2 separate regions of the Homo sapiens genome follow, and region 1 is linked to region 2. The links come from fine-mapping of genetic effects on gene expression. A gene starts in region 2. The other region holds a variant in brackets. All regions are shown on one strand. Distances are between the middles of the regions.

Region 1 (9,001 bases), 130 kb before region 2:
GGAAGCAGGGGTAGCCTCTCAGAGGTTTTGTGTGCTCTCTGTTCCTCAACCATTGGTTTAAAATTTTAAGCCTGTAGAAAAGCTGCAAGAGCAGTGGAGGGGGCATCTGAGGCCCCAAAATCACCAGAGTCCTTGACATTCATATCTGTGCTCTCTCCAGCTCTCCCAGATAGCCTGATGCCTGAACACCTGAGAGTGCTGGCTGAGCCCAGGGCACACTCTTGCACACACCCAAAGCAGGACCACGCTCGAGAGACTCCACGTGGGGCCGATGTGGTCCATGCCCAGATTCTTCCAGTTGTCCTCATCATGTTCTTTCTTTTTAATTTTTTAATAATTTTTCTTTCTTCTTCTCCTTTTTTTTTTTAAGATGGAGTCTTGCTCTGTCACCCAGGCTGGAGTACGGTGGCGCGATCTTGACTCACTGCAACCTCCACCTCCCAGGTTCAAGCCTCCTGAGTAGCTGGGATTATAGGCACCCACCACTACACCAGGCTAATGTTTGTATTTTTAGTAGAGACGGGGTTTCGCCTTGTTGGCCAGGCTGGTCTCGAACTCCTGACCTCAGGTGATCCGCCCGCCTCGGCCTCCCAAAGTGCTGGGATTACAGGCATGAGCCACCGCACCTGGCCCTGGTCATGTTATTTCTAGAGCTGTTTGTTTGTTTGCTCCTGATCCGGATTCGGTCTGCCATTGAGCTCGTAGTCTCCTTGTGGGTCCCTGTTAATCGGGGAGTCCCTCAGCCTCTGTCACCTCCGTTACCTGGTCGCTTCTGGGGGGTGCAGCCCATCAGCTGCAGTCGGGCCTCCGTGTGGGACAGGATTTCCTCATGATGAGCCTTGGGGAGCCTCGGAGGAGACTCTGCAGTGCCCCAGGGTGTGGACTGCCCCTTCCTGATGACGCTGACTTGACTCACTGGGTTAGGGGGATCTGTAGGTTCCTCTGTTGGATGGGCACCTCTTCCTTTTTATAACCAAGAAATGCCCTTTTCCCACTTATTGTGAGGAGCCTGCCTTAGTTCCGCACAATGTAGGCAGAGGGAGGATGCATGCTCTTCATCCTCTTCATCTCCCCGAAGGTGTCCAGGTGCCAGCACCCCAGCCCGGCCTGCTGGGGAGGGGGCTGCATCAGCCAGGGGCTGTGGTGAGAGGGTGGGCAGGACAGAGATGGGCTCCGAGCAGGGGAGCCTGGGCAGCAGGGAGAAGACTGGGGAGCTGAGGGGCTGCCAGTGCAAAGGCCCCAAGCCAGCTGCTGAGGTGGGTGTGGCCCTGGCCAGGGAGGCTGAGGTGTCAATACAGGGGTCTCTCCTGGGCTTGGTGCTTCTGAAAGGGCCTTCTAGCTGTAAGCAGCAGTGAGGGCACAGGAAGGGATGGTGGCTTCAGGGTGGCCTATTCAGGGCCCCAGTGAGCCATGGGAGGGCGGGAGTTTCCCCGTTCACCCAGCATGGCCACTCCGGCCCCTGCCCTAGAGGGCCAGGAAGCTCAGCCATAGGGGCTGGGGCAGCTCAATCAAGGGCCCTGCCCTGGAAGGGTCCAGGCCTGCAGCCCAGCCCCCAACTCCAGCCCCGAGCACCTGCCTCCAGCCCATGGTGCAGGGCCTGGGCCCCTCTGCCGCACCCAGGCCAGACTCAGGCAGGTGGAGCTGGGTCCCTCACCACGCATGCCTCAGCGCTCTCCTCTCCTCCTGGGGTCTCCTGCCCTGAAGAGAGGGTTGGGAGTGTGGGTGGATTTAGGGGCGCCCAGGGGGCAGCACCTGATGGGCAGGGGGTGCTCTCCGGGAAGATGGAGAGAGCAGAGCCACCCCCGAGGCAGGAGGGGTCTGCGGGATGGGAGGGGCCTCTGTGATGAGGGCTGACTGCAGGGACAGGGAAGGGGGTAGGGCAAGTGCCTTTCATTCTCAACTTTTTGGAGGTATGTGGTCTCTGTCCTCCCTCAGCTTCGGGATGTAATCCCTGCGTTTCAGACCCCAGGGTCAGTTGTACACACCTGCAGGCGTCATTCTCTCTGTCACAGACCCGCTTGGGTGGGCACCCATGTGAGTTCTCTGTCTCAGTAGCTGGGCCTGGTCCTACCCCTTCCGGGGGTGTGGCTCTATCCCAGCTCGGTCCTGCCTGGGTCTCTTTCCCTCTCTGAGCGCCTCAGCAGCCCACTAGGTCGGGCACTGGTGCCCTGGGGGCATTGCTCTGTGCCTACTCGCCCCCACAGGGAGCTGAAACACAGCTGCTGCCAATGGGATGTGTCCACCTGGCAGGCGTGGGCCCCTTCTCGGCAGTCCACCCGGCCACACCGTTCCCGGGCAGGCGTGGGCCCCTTCTCCGCAGTCCACCCGGCCATACCATTCCCGGGCAGGCGTGGGCCCCTTCTCGGCAGTCCACCTGGCCATACTGCTCCCAGGCAGGCATGGGCCTCGGCAGCTTCAGGAAGAGCCCCACTGCTGCCCAGGAGGAGCCTGTAGCTGATGCTGGGTGCTCACCATTCCTGCTCATGTACATAAGAGAGCAGGGGCAAAATCTAAAAGTCCACACAGCATGAGACAAACCAGGGGCTGGCCGTCAACACCGGTGTGCAGGCCACTACGCGGCAAGGTGCTGAGAACCTCGTGGGGTCTGCGTCCGGAGGCAGGTGGGTGGTGGCTCTGGGTGGGCTACAGGCTGTGAGGGGATCTGGGGTGTGGAGGGGTTGCTCTAGACTCACTGTTCTGAGGGAACACACCTGTAATCCCAGCACTTTTGGGGGCCGAGGCAGGCAGATCACTTGAGGTCAGGAGTTCAAGACCAGCCTGGCCAACATGGCAAAACCCGGTCTCTACTAAAAATACAAAAAAATTAGCTGGGCATGGTGGTCCACGCCTGTAATCCCAGCTACTTGGGAGGCTGAGGTGGGCAAATTACTTGAACCCGGGGAGGGGCAGAGGTTGTAGTGAGGTGATATTGAGCCACTGCACTCCAGCCTGGGTGGCAGAGTGAGACTCCATCTCAAAAAAATAAATAAATAAAATAAATAAAACAATGCCCATGTATTGAGCATGTGGCATGTGTCAGGTGCTGTGTGACACATCTGCTGCAGTAACATTTAATGTAAAGTAATAACAGAAATATGCTGCATTGTATGAAACACATAGTGTAATATAAATGCATTATATATTAGAAAATTATATAGAATAATAAACATCTACAGCCTGACATTCATATGTTAAAAAGATTAGAATAATAAAAATAATTGGTATTTTTTTCAGGAAAAATAATATAAAATAATCACACAAACTAATATAAAAGCAGTTAATACTTTGACTCATTTAATCCTTAACTCCCCAGTTCTTCTGAAGTTGGGGGCCAGCGAGGACCCTCTGTGGTGACTCTCTGTCTGAATGCACCAAGACTGAGCTCGGGGCCCAGCCACGCAGGATCTGAGCAGTGTGGCCCAGAGCGG[C/T]GGCGGGCGGGCCAGAGGGGTTACTCACGGCCACTAGGATCCAAAAGAACGTCACTGAGAGGTGTGGGCCTGAAACTGAGTCATCCACGTTCAGGGCAATGATCCCCCCGAGGACGGCAGAGATGCCTGCGATTACCTCGACGACCTGGAGGGGACAGGACAGCATCGGCTCATAAGGAAGTGGAGACACCCCCAGATTCCCAGAATGCACTGTGCAGACATGGACCCCCAGGAGCAGGGTCCAGTGGGCTGGCCCCAGATCTAACCGTGGAGGAGCCCACCTGGATGGACCCCCAGCCTCACCTGGCCCAGACCCCCTCTGCCCTCAGCTGCGGCTTTTCACGTCCCTCCTGGAGTAAAATAGCCAAAGAGGTGTTTCCCCCACTGCTGCTTTTGTCCACAGAAACTGAGGGTATTGACCTGACAGTGGTGAGGGCAGAAAACCAAGACCCTCAGACTCCCTTCCCTGTCTCACAGTGTGGCAGGCGGCGGTGCTCAGACCCTGGACCCCATCGAAGGGACTCGGGAAAACAGGCCTGGGGCAGAAGTAGCTTCCCATAGGACACACCCACCCGTGCCATGTGGGTTTGCCATTGCCACGGCAACACTGGACGTCACCACCCCTTTCCGTGGCAATGATCCAACCACCTGGACGTTAGCACCCCTTTTCTAGAAATTTCTGCATAATCTGCCCCTTAATTAGCATATACTTAAAAGTGGGTATAAATAGGAGGCAGAGCTGTCTCTGAGCTGCTGCTCGAGGCACCTGCCGGTTGGAGAGCCCTGCTATACTGCCACTGCAAACAAAGCTGCTGTCTGTCACCTCCAGCTCGCCCTTGAATTCTTTCCTGGACAAAGCCAAGAACCCTGCTGGCCTAAGCCCTGGTTGTGGACTCATCTGCCCGGCACCATCAGGGCCGCAACCAGCACCGCCAGACTCAGGGAGGGGCCGCAACCAGCACCGCCAGACTCAGGGAGGGGCCGCAACCAGCACCGCCAGACTCAGGGAGGGGCCGCAACCAGCACCGCCAGACTCAGGGAGGGCTGGGGAAGAAACACACGCCCGAAAACCTGCTCCCGTGAAGGATCTCTGTGAGTCGCAAACACAGAGCTGTGGCCAGCAGGAAAGCCAGGCATAAGGAGTGGGCCAGCAAGGGCTTGGGGGCCGGAAGGGACCTGGGCAGCCAGGCCTTGCGTCCAGAAGGCACAAAACTCCAGATGCACAAATAAAGCTGAATTCCCAGCCAGGCACGGCGGCTCATGCCTGTAATCCTAGCACTTTGGGAGGCCGAGGCAGACGGATCGTGAGGTCAGGAGTTTGAGTACAGCCTGGCCAACATGGTAAACCCCGTCTCTACTAAAAATAACAAAAATTAGCTGGGCGTGGTGGCGGGCACCTGTAATCCCAGCTACTCGGGAGGCTGAGGCGGGAGAATCGCTTCAACTCAGGAGGCAGAGGTTGCAGTGAACCAAGATCACACCACTGCACTCTAGCCTGGGCAACAGCAGGACTCCATCTCAAAAAAAAAGGAAAAAAAAAAAAGAAGCAGAACGGAAATGGAACCTAAGAGAGGACTGAAATGCTAAATAAGGGGAAGTGAAGGCACTGGGAAACACACACAGACACAGTCAAGCACACAGGAGGCTGTCCCATTGTTGGAGTAAAAAGGCAAAATGTCACTAAATGTCACAAGCTAGACAACAAGGCCAAGGCGGAGGGAAGGGGGACAGACCCCGCATGGTCTGTTTATCAAGGAGCGTATTAGAATATGAAGGGCAACCCCCAAAAGAATACTGAAAAATTTCCCATCCAAAATTAGAGGGAAAAGGAAGGACGGAGCCTCTGCCAATTCAAAAGAAGGCAGGGAAGGAGGGAAAAAGGCAAAATCAGGGAAAATGGAAAACTCAAAAGATGGTAAAAATAAGTAGAAATTTATCAGTAATAACTCTCAGAGGAAATGGGCTACATTCAAAAAGCTAGGGAGAGAGAATGACAAGATAAAGAACAAAATACAGTTACGTGCTGCTTATAACAATTATACCAAAGTACAAGGCAAGAAAAGTTGAAAGTAAGAAGGAGAAAGAGGCCAGGTGCGGTGGCTCACACCTGTAATCCCAGCACTTTGGAAGGCCTGGGTGGGTGGATCACTTGAGGTCAGGAGTTCGAGACCAGCCTGGCCAACATGCCGAAACCCTGCCTCTACTAAAAATAAAATAATTAGCCGGGCGTGGTGGCATGTGCCTGTAGTCCCAGCTCCTCAGGAGGCTGAGGCAGGAGAATTACTTGAACCTGGGAGGCAGAGGTGGCGGTGAGCTGAGATAGCACCACTGCACCCCAGCCTGGCTGATGGAGTGAGACTCCGTCTCAAAAAAAAAAAAAAAATTCCTCGGGGACAACAGTGTCAACTCACCTACGGCAGTAACAAACTCCCCCTAAAAATTACAGGACACCAGCAGCACCTTTCGCGATAAGGAAGGTTATTACCAATGATACCAATAACAGACTAGAGTCTCCACAGATGAGGCGCACGCCGCCATGCGGTGTAGACAGCCAACTCTTCGCCAACTCGGAATCGAAACGTGACGTTTAATCCAGCCTCAGTCACCCCCGACAGAGTATGAGAGAAAAGAGAAAGAAGGGAAGTTTTCTTACTGAGTAAGATTTCAGGACCCGAGCAGGAAATGGCACTTCGTCCAGAATGTTGGCGCTGTCAGACATGGAGCCCTACGAAGAAACAGAACTGTCACCCCGGGTGCACGGGCACAGGGACTCAGCACTGCCGCTGGCATCCGGCCGCCGTGGGCAGTGGGTCAGGTCAGCCTGCCGTGTAGATGCGAGACCGCCTTGGAGGCGCCCGTGGATCTTTGGGCTTGAGGAAATGTTCACACACATTGTCCTTGCATATGAAAATTAGCAGATGTGGTGTCTCCTGGTGATCCCCTGGGGACGAGCACTGGACTGAGTCAGGCTTAGGGGGAGGGGAGGGTACAGCATCTGTCTTCACCTCCCTGTAGCCAGCGGCCGCCAACCCCTCACCCAGCTCCAGAGCCCCTCCTGGCCGGGGTTTCTGAGACCCAGGAGAGAGGGGTCTCATGGGAATGCCCTGGAGCAGCCCAGATCGGCCCTCCGAGGGTGACGCTGAGACCCACCTCGCTCACCCTGGGGTGATGCCTCTGCACCCCCTGCCCTGCGGGGTCAGAAGCTGCACCCACCTTCTTTTTCTTGCAGTCCTCCTCGCTGGACCGTGCAGCGATGATCACCGTGGCCGCCATGAGCAGCTCCAGCAGGAGCAGCAGGATGAGGTTGAAGTTGATCTGCCAAGGGGCACACACGCTTCAGCACCGGGCCCGCCTTTCTCACGCCACCGCGCTTCAGCGTCCACCGGACCACCTCACGGGCAGGCTGCGCAGGACTCTCAGCCACGGTCCCCACTTTTCCCATCCAGGGCCAGCTGTGAGGCACTGTGGGCTGCACACTCTCCTGCCTCACATGGGCCTTTGGGGTCTTTTAGTTTTTAAAACCATTCTTAGTGCAAAGGCTGTACAAACACAGGCCAGGGCTGGATTTGGCCTTGGGCTCTGGTCTACCGACCCCATTCTGAACGCTCCTTGTTCCCACAAAAGCCTTCACGGAATGTTTAGAGTAGCTTCATGCATGATTGTCAAGCACTGAGAACATAAGGTTTTTTGGAGGGTAATGAAACGACTGCAGGCCCTGACCGTATTGGCAGTGACATGAATTTATATGTGTGTTAATATTCATAGAAGCATACATTTTAAAAAGTCAGTGTAGCTGTCTGACAATTTTTTTTTTTTTTTTGAGACGGAGGTTCGCTCTTGTTGCCCAGGCTGGAGAGCAAATGGCGCAATCTCGGCTCACCGCAACCTCTGCCTCCTGGGTTCAAATGATTGTCCTGCCTCAGCCTCCCGAGTAAGCTGGGGTTACAGGCACCTACCAGCACGCCCGGCTAATTTTGTATTTTTAGTAGAGAGGGGTTTCTCCATGTTGGTCAGGCTGGTCTCGAACTCCTGACCTCAGGTGTTCCGCCCACCTCGGCCTCCCAAAGTGCTGAGATTACAGGCGTGAGCCACCGCGCCCGGCCTGACAATTTTTAAAATACATTTAAAAAAGAAAGAGTGCAGAACCACATTCAACTAAAAACAGAGCCTCGAAATATATGATGTCATAACAGAGCCACAGGAAGATGTAGATATATCAGTAGAGGTGGGGAAGGACTTGAAACACTTTTCTTAGAAACTGACAGATCAGGCAGAGGGAGGCGGCTCACGCCTGTGATCCCAGCACTTTGGGGGACCGAGGCGGTTGGATCACCTGAGGTCAGGAGTTCCAGACCAGCCTGACCAACATGGTGAAACCCCTTGTCTACTAAAAATACAAAAATCAGCTGGGTACGGTGGCGCACGCCTGTAATCCCAGCTACTCGGGAGGCTGAGACAGGAGAATTGCTTGAACCCGAGAGGCGGAGGTTGCCGTGAGCCGAGATGGAGCCACTGCACTCCAGTCTGGGCGACAGAGCGAGACTGTCTCAAAAAAAAAAAAAAATGACAGATCAAAAAGACAAAAGCATAAGGAGAACTCTAAAATTCAGAAAAGTGTGACATTAACCTTGTCTTTTATTTTCTGTATTTCTGGTGCTTTGACCTCTGGCTCCTTCCTGATCCTGAAGAGACAGCTCCTCCCAGGGCCAGCCGACAGCTACAGTGAGTAACTTGCCTCTGAGCAGTTCAGATACAAGCCACTGACCCAGGGACCACACCCCATCTGCTCTCCGTCTTAATAAAGAAGCGTCACAGGCCGGGCGCGGTGGCTCATACCTGTAATCCCAGCACTATGGGAGGCCGAGGTGGATGGATCACCTGAGGTCAGGAGTACAAGGCCAGCCTGGCCAACATGGTGAAACCTTGTCTGTACTAAAAATACAAAAATTAGCCGAGTGTGGTGGCACACGCCTGTAATCCCAGCTACTCCAGAGGCTGAGGCAGGAGAATTGCTTGAACCCGGGAGGTAGAGGTTGCAGTGAGCCGAGATGGCGCCACTACACTCCAGCCTGGGCGACAGAGCGAGATTCCTTCTCAAAAACAAAACAAAACAAAACAAAAAGGCAGTGTGGGTGTTCCCACTGGGTCCTCCTGTGTCTGCTCATTTTTCCTGCCCAACGAGAGTGGCCAGGACATACTCAAGCCTCCTCCAGCTTTCCCCAATCATCAAGTGCATTCCACATGTCACACAAAGCAGGAGGCCCTCCTTGCAGTATCTCGGATGAGGTCCTGGTTTCCTTTGGGATTTTTGTCTTTTTTTTTTTTTTTTTTTTTTTGAGACGGAGTCTTGCTCTGTCTTCCAGGCTGGAGTGCAGTGGCGCCATCTCGGCTCCCACAACCTCTGCCCCCTACAATTTCACATTTTTGTTTAGAGGTGCATTGAACAACTGTCTTACACAGATTGGATGAAACATAGTATTATGTCACTGTTAATTTTTAAGGACTGTTGGAAAAGACATTGTTTACCAATAAATCTGTCCCGCAGAATCACGAGACTTCAATAAAGACAATTA
Region 2 (11,488 bases):
CCTTTGAGAAGTGCCTGTTGGGACAGAACTCCCTGCTCTGGTCTGACCCTCTGCACGCTAGGGTGGTCCTGCACCTGTCGGGGAGGGGGCCAAGGACACAGCACTGGGCTGGGGCAGGGCTCTGCGCTGGTGCTGCCTGCCATCCCAGTTCTGCCATTCCCCCAGCGCACCCCCGCACCCGCCCCTCCAGCTGATGCCTGCTCCCTCTCTCTGCAGAACGGGCTCATGTCGGGGCTGATGCAGATGCTGCTGCTGAAGGTGTCTGCACACATCACCGAGCAGCTGGGCATGGCCCCAGGTGGCGAGTTCAGGGAGGCCTTCAAGGAGGTGGGCACAGGGTGAGGTAGGGGGTGGCCACAGGGATGTGGCTCACAGGGGTGGTCCGGGGTTCCCACTGCTCCCCAACACCCAGCCTCTGCTCCAGGCCAGCAAGGTGCCTTTCTGCAAGTTCCACCTGGGTGACCGACCCATCCCCGTCACCTTCAAGAGGGCCATCGCAGCGCTCTCCTTCTGGCAGAAGGTCAGGCTGGCTTGGGGCCTGTGCTTCCTGTCAGACCCCATCAGGTAGGGCTGCCCCCGGGACCCTGGCCGGCCTGCAGGGTGGTCTGTGGGAGGCTCCAGGCCCTCCTGTGCAGGTCCAAGCGCAGCCAATCCTCACTCAAGGCCTTCCCTGCCCTTTCCTTCCGCCACAAATCCCAAACAAACGTGCTGTGGTCCCTGCCCGGTGTCCACAGTGCCAGCCCCACCCCCCCAGCCCGTTGCCCATCCCTGCGGGGCTGCAGCCATCCCTCTCCACAGCAAGGATGACGTGGAACGCTGCAAGCAGAAGGACCTACTGGAGCAGATGATGGCCGAGATGATTGGCGAGTTCCCAGACCTGCACCGCACCATCGTCTCGGAGCGCGACGTCTACCTAACCTACATGCTGCGCCAGGCCGCGCGGCGCCTCGAGCTGCCTCGGGCCTCTGACGGTGACGGCCGCCCGCAGGCGTGGGACCCCCTGTGAGGCTGAGGCCCGAGCAGGTACTGACCCCTTGTCCTTCCCCACAGCCGAGCCCAGGAAGTGCGTCCCCTCCGTGGTCGTGGGCGTCGTGGGCATGGGCCACGTGCCTGGCATCGAGAAGAACTGGAGCACCGACCTCAACATCCAGGAGATCATGACGTGAGTGCCCGCCCCTCCCTGCAAGCCCCACCCCACAAGCCCCCAGGTGGAGGCTGAGCGCCCTGGAGGCCAACCACATGCGGCAGTGACCCAGGCATGGGGGCTGGGGTATGGGGAGCCCACCCCCAGCCAGGCCCAGCGCCCCCTCCCTCCCACAGCGTGCCCCCGCCGTCCGTCTCCGGCAGAGTGTCTCGGTTGGCCGTGAAGGCCGCCTTCTTCGGCCTGCTGGGCTACAGCCTGTACTGGATGGGCCGCCGCACCGCGAGCCTGGTCCTGTCGCTGCCCGCCGCGCAGTACTGCCTGCAGAGGGTGACCGAGGCCCGGCACAAGTAGGAGACTGCTCCCCGCCCGCTCGGGCCCCTGAGGAGCCAGTGCCCCCGCGGCACTTCTGGGTGCCAGGTGCATCCTAGCCCGCCCGAGGCCCCTGCCACCCCCCATGGGGGTCTGGGCCCGGCCTCGCCTGCCCTCCTGGGCCAGTCACCCCTCCCCCAGCCCACCCAAATAAAGGATTATTTAACTGTCTGAGCTCAGGCCTCCCGGCAGCCCCTCCCCTCCCACACTGCAGGGGCCGTTCCCCAGCTTCTGGACAAGACACCCAGCTCCGAGGGGGCAGGGGCTTATAGGAGGGGCCGAGGCGTGCGCTGCCCTCTCAGCCCTGGTGGCAGGCGGGGGACAATGGCCACTGTCCCTACCTCACTGTGCCTTCCTGTGCTCCGGCCACAGGAGCGTCGGCCCAGGGGCGGCTCCTGGGGGCTCCAGGGCAGGCGAGACTGGGAAAGGCCCAGCCCTGGAGCTCCAGCCGACCCCACCGTGCCCCTGGCATCCTGGCCCTGGCCGCCACCTCCCTGGCACCGTCTGCCTGCAGGGATTCTGTGTTTTTGGCTTTTTTAATGTCTTAAAATCTTTTACTCAGGTAATTTTAATTTCAGAGAGAAAAACTGAAGTAAATGTCAAAAAACACCAGCCTTAAATCCAAAGGGAGAGAATTCGTGTTCTTGGGTCTGTCCCGAGTGGGCTCGCGTGCAGCCAAACATCAGCTCTGGGTCCAGGCGTGGCCTCAGCTGGGAGCCTGTGTCCTGAGCCCCCGGAGCGAAGGGGTGCCTGGGGCATCTTGGCCCTCTCTGGGCAGACAATGTGTGCACCTATGTGGAAGGCCAAGGACATGGGCTGTGGCCAGGCCTGTCCCGCTCAGGCCCCCTGCCCGGCGGCCGTCTGTGTGCGGGGCCTCCCTCCTGGCTGTCCAGGACACAGCCCGTGCAGCCCCAGCCTGGACCCAGGCCATCTCTGGTTGTGTCTGTGCCGACTCGGTGTTGAATCAAATCAGGTGTGCGTCAGGAGCCGGCTGTGTCCTTCCTGCCACACTCGGGGATTCATTCCTTAGAAACTGAAATAAATTCTAATTTTGGAAACTCCTGTTTTGTGACGTGTGAACATGGGGTTCAGGTAATGAAGGATCCCTGCCTCTTCCCCCGTGCTCCAGTGCAGCGGGTACTCGTGGCCCTGCCGGGGCCCTGGGGGAAGGAACCTGCCTGGTTTCCAGCAGAAGAGACAGAGTCGGGTCCCTCCATGCTGACCTGTGGGACCCTTCTCACCCACCAGGTGGGACGCAGGTGGCCTGCTGACACTCAAGACCCTCCATACCCAGTCCCACCAGATTCCAGAGTGTGGACCAGACTGAGCCAGACTGGGGCCCCAGGGGGTCGAGGAGACAGATCAGGAGGGCCCAGGGCCTGGGGAATGGGGAGGGGTAACACCTGCCAAGGAGGATGCTGGGAACGGGCGCCCAGAGCGGCCGGGGGGAGGGGGCTGCTGAAGAGGGAACGGTTGCTGTGGGCTGCAGAGGAGGGTTGGGCACGGGGACCTCACCACATTATCCCTCATCCAGTTACCTGCCCAACGCACGCGGAGGGTCCTGAGGGCTTCACCCGCAGCCCCAAAGGGGCAGAGCTGGGGTCACGCAGAGTCTCGGAAGCCCACGCTGTGGCCCCAGGAGAAGCTTCTGGATGTAGCTCCTGTATGTGAAGGGTGGGCTCGCGCCGCTGCCGGAATAAAGGGAAACCACAGGCAGGAGGGAGGCGCGTCCAGGATCCGCGGCCACCGGCCTCTCAGACAGTCCTCTGGGGCCGGGGCCGGAGGAGATGGAAAGCGGGGGCACCACAGACTCATCTGAACCCCCGCGTTCATTCGGACACACAGACCCCAAATTCCTCCCCCAGGGGTCGGGTCCCTCAAGCCAGCCGAAGACCCCGGTGCCCGCCCAGCCCTCCGGGAGGGTCTGCGCCTGCGGCCTCGCGGGGCCTCTCCGAGCCCGGGCGCTGTTCCATGGGCGGGGCACAGATCCAAGGCCCCTTCCCTCCTAGACGGCAGGCGAGGGGCCCGAGAGGCCGGAGGCCAGGGGACAAGGTCCCCGAGAGGCGGCGCGAGGCTCCGGCGGCCCAGAACCGCGGCGGGGTCCGGGTGGGGTCCCGGCCGCCCGTGGGGCGCGGGGCTAAGCCCCGGCCCGACCCGAACGGACGCGGGCCTCGGTCCCCGCTGCCGGCGCCGGTGCAGCCGAGGAAATCCGGGGCTGCCCGAGCGGGGTCGTCGCTGGCGGTCTCGGAGGCGTTCCCATCTGTCACCCCGTTCGCATCAGCGCGCGCCCCGTGACGCCGACAGCCACCCCGGACGCCTCCGACCCTCCGGCCGGGAGATGCGGATAGACGGACGAGGCAGCCAATTAGAGCCCGGCCAGACACCGCGACCCCTCCCCCCACCCGCCCCACTCTCGCCCACTGGCGATTGGGTTGCGGGACGCGCGGGGCGGGGCTTCCGGGCGGGGCAGGCTGGCTTCCGGCGGGAGCGGGGCCGCGGATGGCCGTATACAGGGCAGCGCTCGGGGCTTCGCTCGCGGCTGCCCGACTCTTGCCCCTCGGTCGCTGTTCCCCGTCGCCGGCGCCCCGCTCTACGTTGTCGGGCGCCGCCATGGAGCCCGCGCCTCGCTGGCTGGCGGGGCTGCGCTTCGACAACCGCGCCCTGCGCGCCCTGCCCGTGGAGGCGCCGCCGCCCGGTCCCGAGGGCGCCCCGTCCGCGCCGCGGCCCGTGCCCGGGGCCTGCTTCACCCGCGTGCAGCCCACCCCGCTGCGGCAGCCGCGCCTCGTGGCGCTGTCAGAGCCCGCGCTGGCGTTGCTGGGCCTGGGCGCGCCGCCCGCGCGCGAGGCCGAGGCCGAGGCCGCGCTGTTCTTCAGCGGCAACGCGCTCCTGCCGGGCGCCGAGCCCGCCGCGCACTGCTACTGCGGCCACCAATTCGGCCAGTTCGCCGGGCAGCTGGGCGACGGCGCCGCCATGTACCTGGGCGAGGTGTGCACGGCGACCGGCGAGCGCTGGGAGCTGCAGCTCAAGGGCGCCGGGCCCACGCCCTTCTCCAGGTGGGCCGGGGCGGGCGAGGGGCGCGGGTGGGTCCTCCCCGCCGGGGCGCCCCTTCCCTCCGCCCGGCGCGGTGTTGGGGGCGTCCGGCGGCTACTGCCAAGTGGGGCCTCCCCTGCACCCGCGGGAGCGCGGTGCTGGCAGCCGCCCGCGCCCTGTGCTTATCAACCCGCCGAGGACCTTGGAGTCAGCTCCACCAGGGACGCCGCTCATGTTTACCGACGTTCGCTGGGGCTCCAAACCCAGGGGCGGGAGCCGGGATGAGAGGTTAGGCTAACCCTAACCCTAACCCCGCAGGTCCCCAGCCTTCCTCCGATCGCTCGTGGGGCGGGCCGCTTCGTCCAGCAGCCTCGCTCTGCGACTGACTTCACGGAGGCCTGGCCCTGACTTCCCTGCGGGCAGCCCTTTTTAACCCCGAAGTGAGGTGGGCATCGTTTAGATTTCTGTGGGGGGGCACACAGGTGGTCTAATAAGGCAGGATCTGGGTCCAGATGCCGCCAGGCCCACCGGGGAGCCGTGCACGCGCCACCTGCCTCCTGTGTATAGACAGCGCTTGGGTCTGTTCTGCTCTTTTCTACTAAACAATGTACTTACTCCATATTCTTTACTGCTTTTGTGAATGACTAGGAAAGTGTACATTTTATGTTCAGAGAAATGCTAAACCCGCATCTCATCCGGCCCCTCCCTGTGCTCTCATCACCTCCCCCTCCAGCACCTGAAATGCCCCTCGGTCCCTCAGCATCCCTTCCCCGGGGCTCCATCTCCCAAGCAAGCTCCTCAGACTGAGGGTCTTCCTCACTCCCCCGTCTCCAAATCCGTTCTGTTCTGTGTCTGAGGGCAACCTGGCTCTGGCTCTCCCTCCCCACCCCCAGCGACCTGCTTAGAGTTGACAGCACCGGCCGCCCACTGGAGCGTTTCTGACCCTTGGAACGTGGTGGAAATGCTGCTCAGCCTGGGGCCTGCTTGTCCTGTGAGCATTTTTTTTTTTTAATTTTTGTTTTTCTTTTTGGCGATCATCTTAAACTTTATGTTTTCATTTTTGGTGATATTTTAAAGTTAAAAAGACAATTTTTTTTATGAGAGTAATCTGTCGCTGGAAGACACTTTTTATGTTTGAAGACTTGAGTATTAACTCACTGCTTTCAGACCTGAGAGCTGCTAGAATATATTTTCTCCTAAAAATTAAGGAGTCCTTTGACCTTTACTCAGGCCCTGCCTGACATCCCCACACGTGTCCTGGGGTCCCTGGCCTCACCAGTTCTCCAAGATTGAGGCTAACGTCTGAAGTGGCTGTGAGAAGGAAGAGACTTGAACAGTGAAAACTGAAAAACATGAAGAAAATAAAGAAAACATAAATAAATGGAAACATCCCTTGTTCGTGGGTTGGATAACTTAATATTAGAAAGACAACGGTACTCTTTGAAGAGATTCAGTATAGTCCTTATCAAAATACCAATGACAGTTTTTGCAAAAATAGAAAAACCCATTCTAAAATTCACATGGGGTCAGGTGCAGTGGCTCACTCCTGTAATCCCAGCACTTTGGGAGGCCAAGGCAGGAGGATTGCTTAAGGCCAGGAGTTGGAGACCAGCCTGGGAAACAGCAAGACCCTGTCTCTTCAAAAAAATATTTTTTTTTATTAGCTGGGCATGGTGGCGTGTGCTTCTAATTGCAGCTACTCAGGAGACTGAGGTGGAAGAATCACTTGAGCCCAGGATTCAAGGCTGCAGTGAGTTGTGATTATCCCATTGCACTCCAGCCTGGATGACAGAGTGAGACCCTGTCTCAAAAAGTAATACAATTCATATGGAATCTCAAGGGACCCTGAATGGACAAAACAATCTTGAAGAAAGTTGGAGGACTCATGCTTCCTGATTTCAAAACTTACTACAAAGCCGCAGTCAGCAAAACAGTATGGCATTGGCATAAGGATAGACATAGACCAGTGGGATGGAATAAAGAGCCTAGAAATAAACCTTCACATATATGGTCAGCAAATTTTCAACAAGTGTGCTGAGACCATTCAATGGAGAAAGACTTTTCAACAAATGGTGCTGGGAAAACTGGATCCTCATGCAAAAGAATGAAGCTGGGTCCTTAACTACACCATGAACGAAGTTAAGAGTGGACCAAAGACCTAAACATAAGAGCTAAAACTCCTAGAGAAAATAGGGAAAATGCCTCATGACATTGGATTTGGCAGCGTTCTTGGCTGTGACACAAAAGGCACAGGCAACTAAAGAAACAGGCAAACAAGACTTCATGAACACTTTAAAAATTAGGCATAAAAATACAGTATTAACAGTAAAAATGCAGCCCACAGAATGGGAGGAAACATTTGCAATTCATATATCTGATAAGTAATTAAGATCCAGAATATACAGAGAACTCTCAAAACTCAGCAACAGGAAAAAAAAATTCAAAAATGGACAAGTATTTGAATAGACATTTCTTCAAAGATGTGGCCAATAAGCACGTGAAGAGTTTATAACATGAGAAGACGCTCAACGTCATCAATCATTAGGGAAATGCAAACCAAAACTACAGTGGGACAGCACCTCATACCCATTGGGATGGCAGTTATTTAAAAAAAGGTTGACCTGGGCGTGGTGGTGGGTGCCTGTAATCCCAGCTACTCAGGAGGCTGAGGCAGAATTGCTTGAACCCGGGAGGTGGAGCTTGCAGTGAGCCAAGATCACACCACTGCACTTCAGCCTGGGCGACAGGGCAAGACTGTCTCGGAAAAATAAAAGGTTGGTCGGGCACAGTGGCTCACGCCTGTAATCCCAGCACTTTGGGAGGCTGAGGTGGGCGGATCATTTGAGGTCAGGAGTTTGAGACCAGCCTGGCCAACATGGTGAAACCCCAGCTCTACAAAAAATACAAAAATTAGCCGGGCATGGTGGAGCGTGCCTGTGATCCCAGCTACCTGGGAGGCTGAGGCAGGAGAATCACTTGAACCCAGGAGGCGGAGGTTGCAGTGAGCCGAGATCACGCCACTGTCCCTGGGTGACAGAGTGAGACCCTGTCTCAAAAAAAAAAAAAAATCGTAAGTTAAAAAGTGTTGCGGCTGTGGAGAAATTGGAACCCTTCTGCACTGTTGGTGGGAATGTAAAATGATAGAGTTGCTGTGGAAAACAGTGTGGAAGTTCCTCAAATAATTAAATCACCACATGATTCAGCAGTTCTGCTTCTGGGTATATCCCCAAGAGCAGGATCTCAAGATTTGTATACCGATATTCATGGCCAAAAGGCAGAACAAGTGTCTATCAGCAGGTGAATGGATTAAATGTGATGTGTACATACAGTGGAATATTATTCATCCTTAAGAAAGAAGATGCTGATATGCTACAACACGGATGAACCTGGAGGACGTGGTGCAGTGAAATAAGCTGGTCACAGAGAGACAAATCCTGGGTGATCCCACTTACATGAGGTACCTAGAGAGCCACATTCATAGAGACAAAGTAGAATGGTGGGTCCCAGGGGCTGGAGGGAGTAGAGGAATCGGGAGCCAGTGTTCGATGGGGACAAAGTTTCAGTTTCTGGGTCCCAGGGGCTGGAGGGAGTAGAGGAATCGGGAGCCAGTGTTCGATGGGGACAAAGTTTCAGTTTCACAAGACAGATTTCTGGACATGGATGGGGGTGATGGTTGTGCAACATTATGAACGTATTTAATAGCACTGATCTGTACACTTATAAATGGCTAAGATGGGCCGGGCGCAGTGGCTCATGCCTGTAATCCTAGCACTTTTGGGAGGCCAAGGTGAGAGGATCGCTTGAGCCCAGGAGTTCAAGACTAGCGTGGGCAACATAAACCCCGTCTTTACAAAAAGTAAGACAAGAATTAGCAGAGCTTGGCGGCATTGCCTGTAGTCCCATCTGCTTGGCAGGCTGAGGCGAGAGGGTGGTGCTGCAGTGAGCCAGGTTTGTGCCACTGCACTCCAGGCCAAGTGACAGAGTGAGACCCTGTCTTTAAAAAACAAAAAAAGTGGCTTAAGATGGTAAATTTATTTTATGTGTATTTTACCACAGTGAAAATAATTGAAGAAAAAGGGGGCAGTCATCTGGCCCTCAGATCTCACATCCCCTTCCCCATGCCTGTCCGATTCCCTGGCCTCGGCAGTTCTGCAGGACATGAGGCCGAGGCCGGGGACCCGAAGACCTGTGGGGAAGGGAATGCGAGACCTGGGGGTCAGAAGTGGCTGAGTGGCCTGAGGCCAGCGCTGTCGGAGCCTCGGGCGGGTTTTGCGGGGCGGGCAGCTGGCTTCTCTGCCCTGCCTCCTCCCACTGTGGGTGTGGGGGCCCCGGCAGGCACAGAGGAGCTCATTCCTCAGCTGGCCCGTACCGGGGCACCCATCCTGGTGCAAAGGCTGTTGTGTCCCATGGGGCAGGGCTGCCCCAGGCCCTTTGTCCCCACTGTGCAGTCACACAGTCCTGGCTTCTGCTGCGGAACCCTCGTTCTGGGCAGGAAGACGGGCTGCTGCGTGTGTTCAGGCCCATTTTTACCAGAGGCTGTGCCGACAACCTGCTGGGCTGTGAGGTTGCTGGAACTGGGCGGTGTTGGAGGCTCACAAGGCACCTGATGTCACCTGGGACGGGCGGTTTTCAGGGACGTGCAAGCTGCTCACGTTACACGCGTTCCCTCCTTTCCATGTGCTGCCCGGAATCCTGGTGTTGGGTGACCTCCTGACCGGCCCACGTAGTGAACTCTGTGTTTGGTTTCAGACAGGCCGACGGTCGCAAGGTCCTACGGTCAAGCATCCGGGAGTTTCTATGCAGCGAAGCCATGTTCCACCTGGGAGTCCCCACCACACGGGCCGGCGCCTGCGTCACGTCCGAGTCCACGGTGGTGCGCGACGTGTTCTATGATGGTAATCCCAAATATGAACAATGCACGGTTGTGTTGCGTGTAGCTTCCACTTTCATAAGGTAATGCCGGGGGCCTTTCGGCCTGTCTACACGCACTTGCTTAGAGTCCTAGGAGATTTGGGCCTGTGCTGCTAGGATTCTGGTAGAAACAAACCCAGATGACCGCCTTGGCCTCTTCTGAAAGTCCAGCCTGTCCCTGGCAGCCTCAGAAGCTGCCTGTCCGCGAAGTAGCTGCGTCACGCCCACTGGGAGGGATCTGAGTGCAAAGGCATTTGGTACTCAGTTAGGACACTTGTGCTGAGCCCTCCCACGTGCCCGGCCAGGCCCTCGTTGCAGCCAGAGATGGCCCTGCGGGAGCTGGTGTGTCTCAAAGCACCAGCAGGGGGCTCCAGGGCCACGGGCACCAGAGAAGGGTCCCTGCCTGGTGCTTCTGGGGGGGAGGGGGTCCCTGAGCCTGAGGCTGGGGACAGTGTCCAGAGCTGTTTGCTGGAGTTTATGACAAGGAACTACTTAGACTTGACTGAGGAAATGGCCACTGAAGAAGCAGGAGCCGCAAGCTGTGCGCGGTGTCCTGCTCAGGCTTTCTGATCTGATGGTCCAGTTGCTCGTTGGTCTGGAGTCCTAGGCTGGCTCCTGTCTGACGTGAGCCATCAGTTATCAGTTCTCTTTTCTTTTTTTTTGAGACAGAGTATCGCTCTGTCACCCAGGCTGGAGTGCAGTGGCGTGATCTTGGCTCAGTGCAACCTCCGCCTCCCGGGTTCAAGCGATTCTCCTACCTCAGTCCCCCCAAATAGCTGGGGTTACAGACGTGCGCCACCACGTCCAGCTAATTTTTATATTTTTAGTACAGACAGGGTTTCTCCATGTTGGCCAGGCTGGTCTCGAACTCCTGACCTCTGGTGATTCACCCATCTTGGCCTCCTAAAGTGCTAGAATTATAGGCCTGAGCCACCGCGCCCGGCCCCCAGCCATCAGTTTTTGATGTCACCTTGCCACCTGGCGTCTAGCACTTCCTCCTGAACACCTGAATGTAGTTGTCTGTTGGTCTTGCAGCCCCGTCCTGCCCGGGACACCAGCCGCCCACCCCTGAGGCTGCCTGTGGGCCTCTGGCTTTTCCTGTCCTGCAGGGGGATGGGAAAGATCTGGGGCCACGACTTCCTCTGAGGCCCCGCCCAGCGGCAATGCTGGCATTGTTGTGAAGTCCACCCTGTGTGCACACAGCATCCCTGCCCTGGGCCCGCTGGTTGCCAGTAGTAACCCCAGTTGTGACAACGAAAAATGTGTCCAGACCTTGCCTGATGTCCCCTGGGGGGCAGTCACCCTGGGGGACGGCTGCTGGTGAGCGCTCACAGATGTGTGTCCATAGCAGCTGACTCTCCTTTGCATCTCCTCCCCGAGGACGCAGTGGCAGGCAGGCCACGCCCCTCCGTGTGTAAGACCTGCCGAAAACACTCCTCGTGGGGTTGGGGTGGGAGTGCAGGGGCCTTGGTGGTTTCTACACCCATGGGCCTGCCCGGCACGTGCCCCAGACTGTGCAGACAGGGCCTGGTCAGTGGCTGGATGTTGACCAAACGTGGAATATGTCTGTGTGTCAGGTAAAGCTGTGGTGCATTCTGGTTGGTTGTTTGCTTTTGTTTTAATCAAGGTTCTCTTTCTGCTGTAGGGCTGCATGATTTAGCAGCCACAACAGGCCAGGCGCGGTGGCTCACGCCTGTAATCCCAGCACTTTGGGAGGCCGAGGCGGGTGGATCACGAGGTCAGGAGTTTGAGACCAGCCTGACCAACATGGTGAAACCCTGTCTCTACTAAAAATACAAAAATTAGCTGGGCGTGGTGGCGTGTGCCTGTAATCCCAGCTACTCGGGAGGCTGAGGCAGTAGAATCACTTGAACCCAGAAGTTGGAGGTTGTGGTGAGGCGAGATCGCGCCACTGCACTCCAGCCTGGACAACAAGAGTGAGACTCCATCTCAAAAAAAAAAAAAAAATAGCCACAACAACGTCTTTTCCTTTTTCTTATTTTCACAAGGGGCTGGGGTCAGGTTTGGGCTGTT

Evidence for each region.
Region 1: its variant is fine-mapped to the expression of SELENOO in whole blood (TOPMed, PIP 0.97).

Annotation. Positions count from the first base shown.
Region 1 is chr22:50,070,760-50,079,760 of GRCh38, forward strand. MLC1 (modulator of VRAC current 1) reads right to left here. Exons shown (of 12, transcript NM_015166.4): 6 at 6,642-6,743; 7 at 6,082-6,153; 8 at 3,457-3,573. Among named protein-coding and RNA genes, the nearest start is that of MLC1, 10 kb to the right of the region's middle. RefSeq lists enhancers at 1,058-1,940, 1,941-2,822, 3,142-3,648. The variant C/T (reference allele first, on the strand shown) is at 3,429.
Region 2 is chr22:50,197,025-50,208,512 of GRCh38, forward strand. It overlaps SELENOO (selenoprotein O), which reads left to right and starts at 3,987. Exons shown (of 9, transcript NM_031454.2): 1 at 3,987-4,566; 2 at 9,293-9,496. The coding sequence starts at 4,013. TRABD (TraB domain containing) reads left to right here. Exons shown (of 10, transcript NM_001320485.2): 6 at 217-327; 7 at 425-564; 8 at 799-971; 9 at 1,051-1,162; 10 at 1,321-2,571. The coding sequence ends at 1,495. It overlaps TRABD-AS1 (TRABD antisense RNA 1), which reads right to left and starts at 3,759. Exons shown (of 2, transcript NR_186698.1): 1 at 3,052-3,759; 2 at 2,064-2,304. SELENOO-AS1 (SELENOO antisense RNA 1) reads right to left here. Exons shown (of 2, transcript XR_938352.3): 2 at 8,557-11,488. RefSeq lists silencers at 3,307-4,246, 4,377-4,456 and enhancers at 4,817-5,056, 8,752-9,318, 9,319-9,884, 10,452-11,016.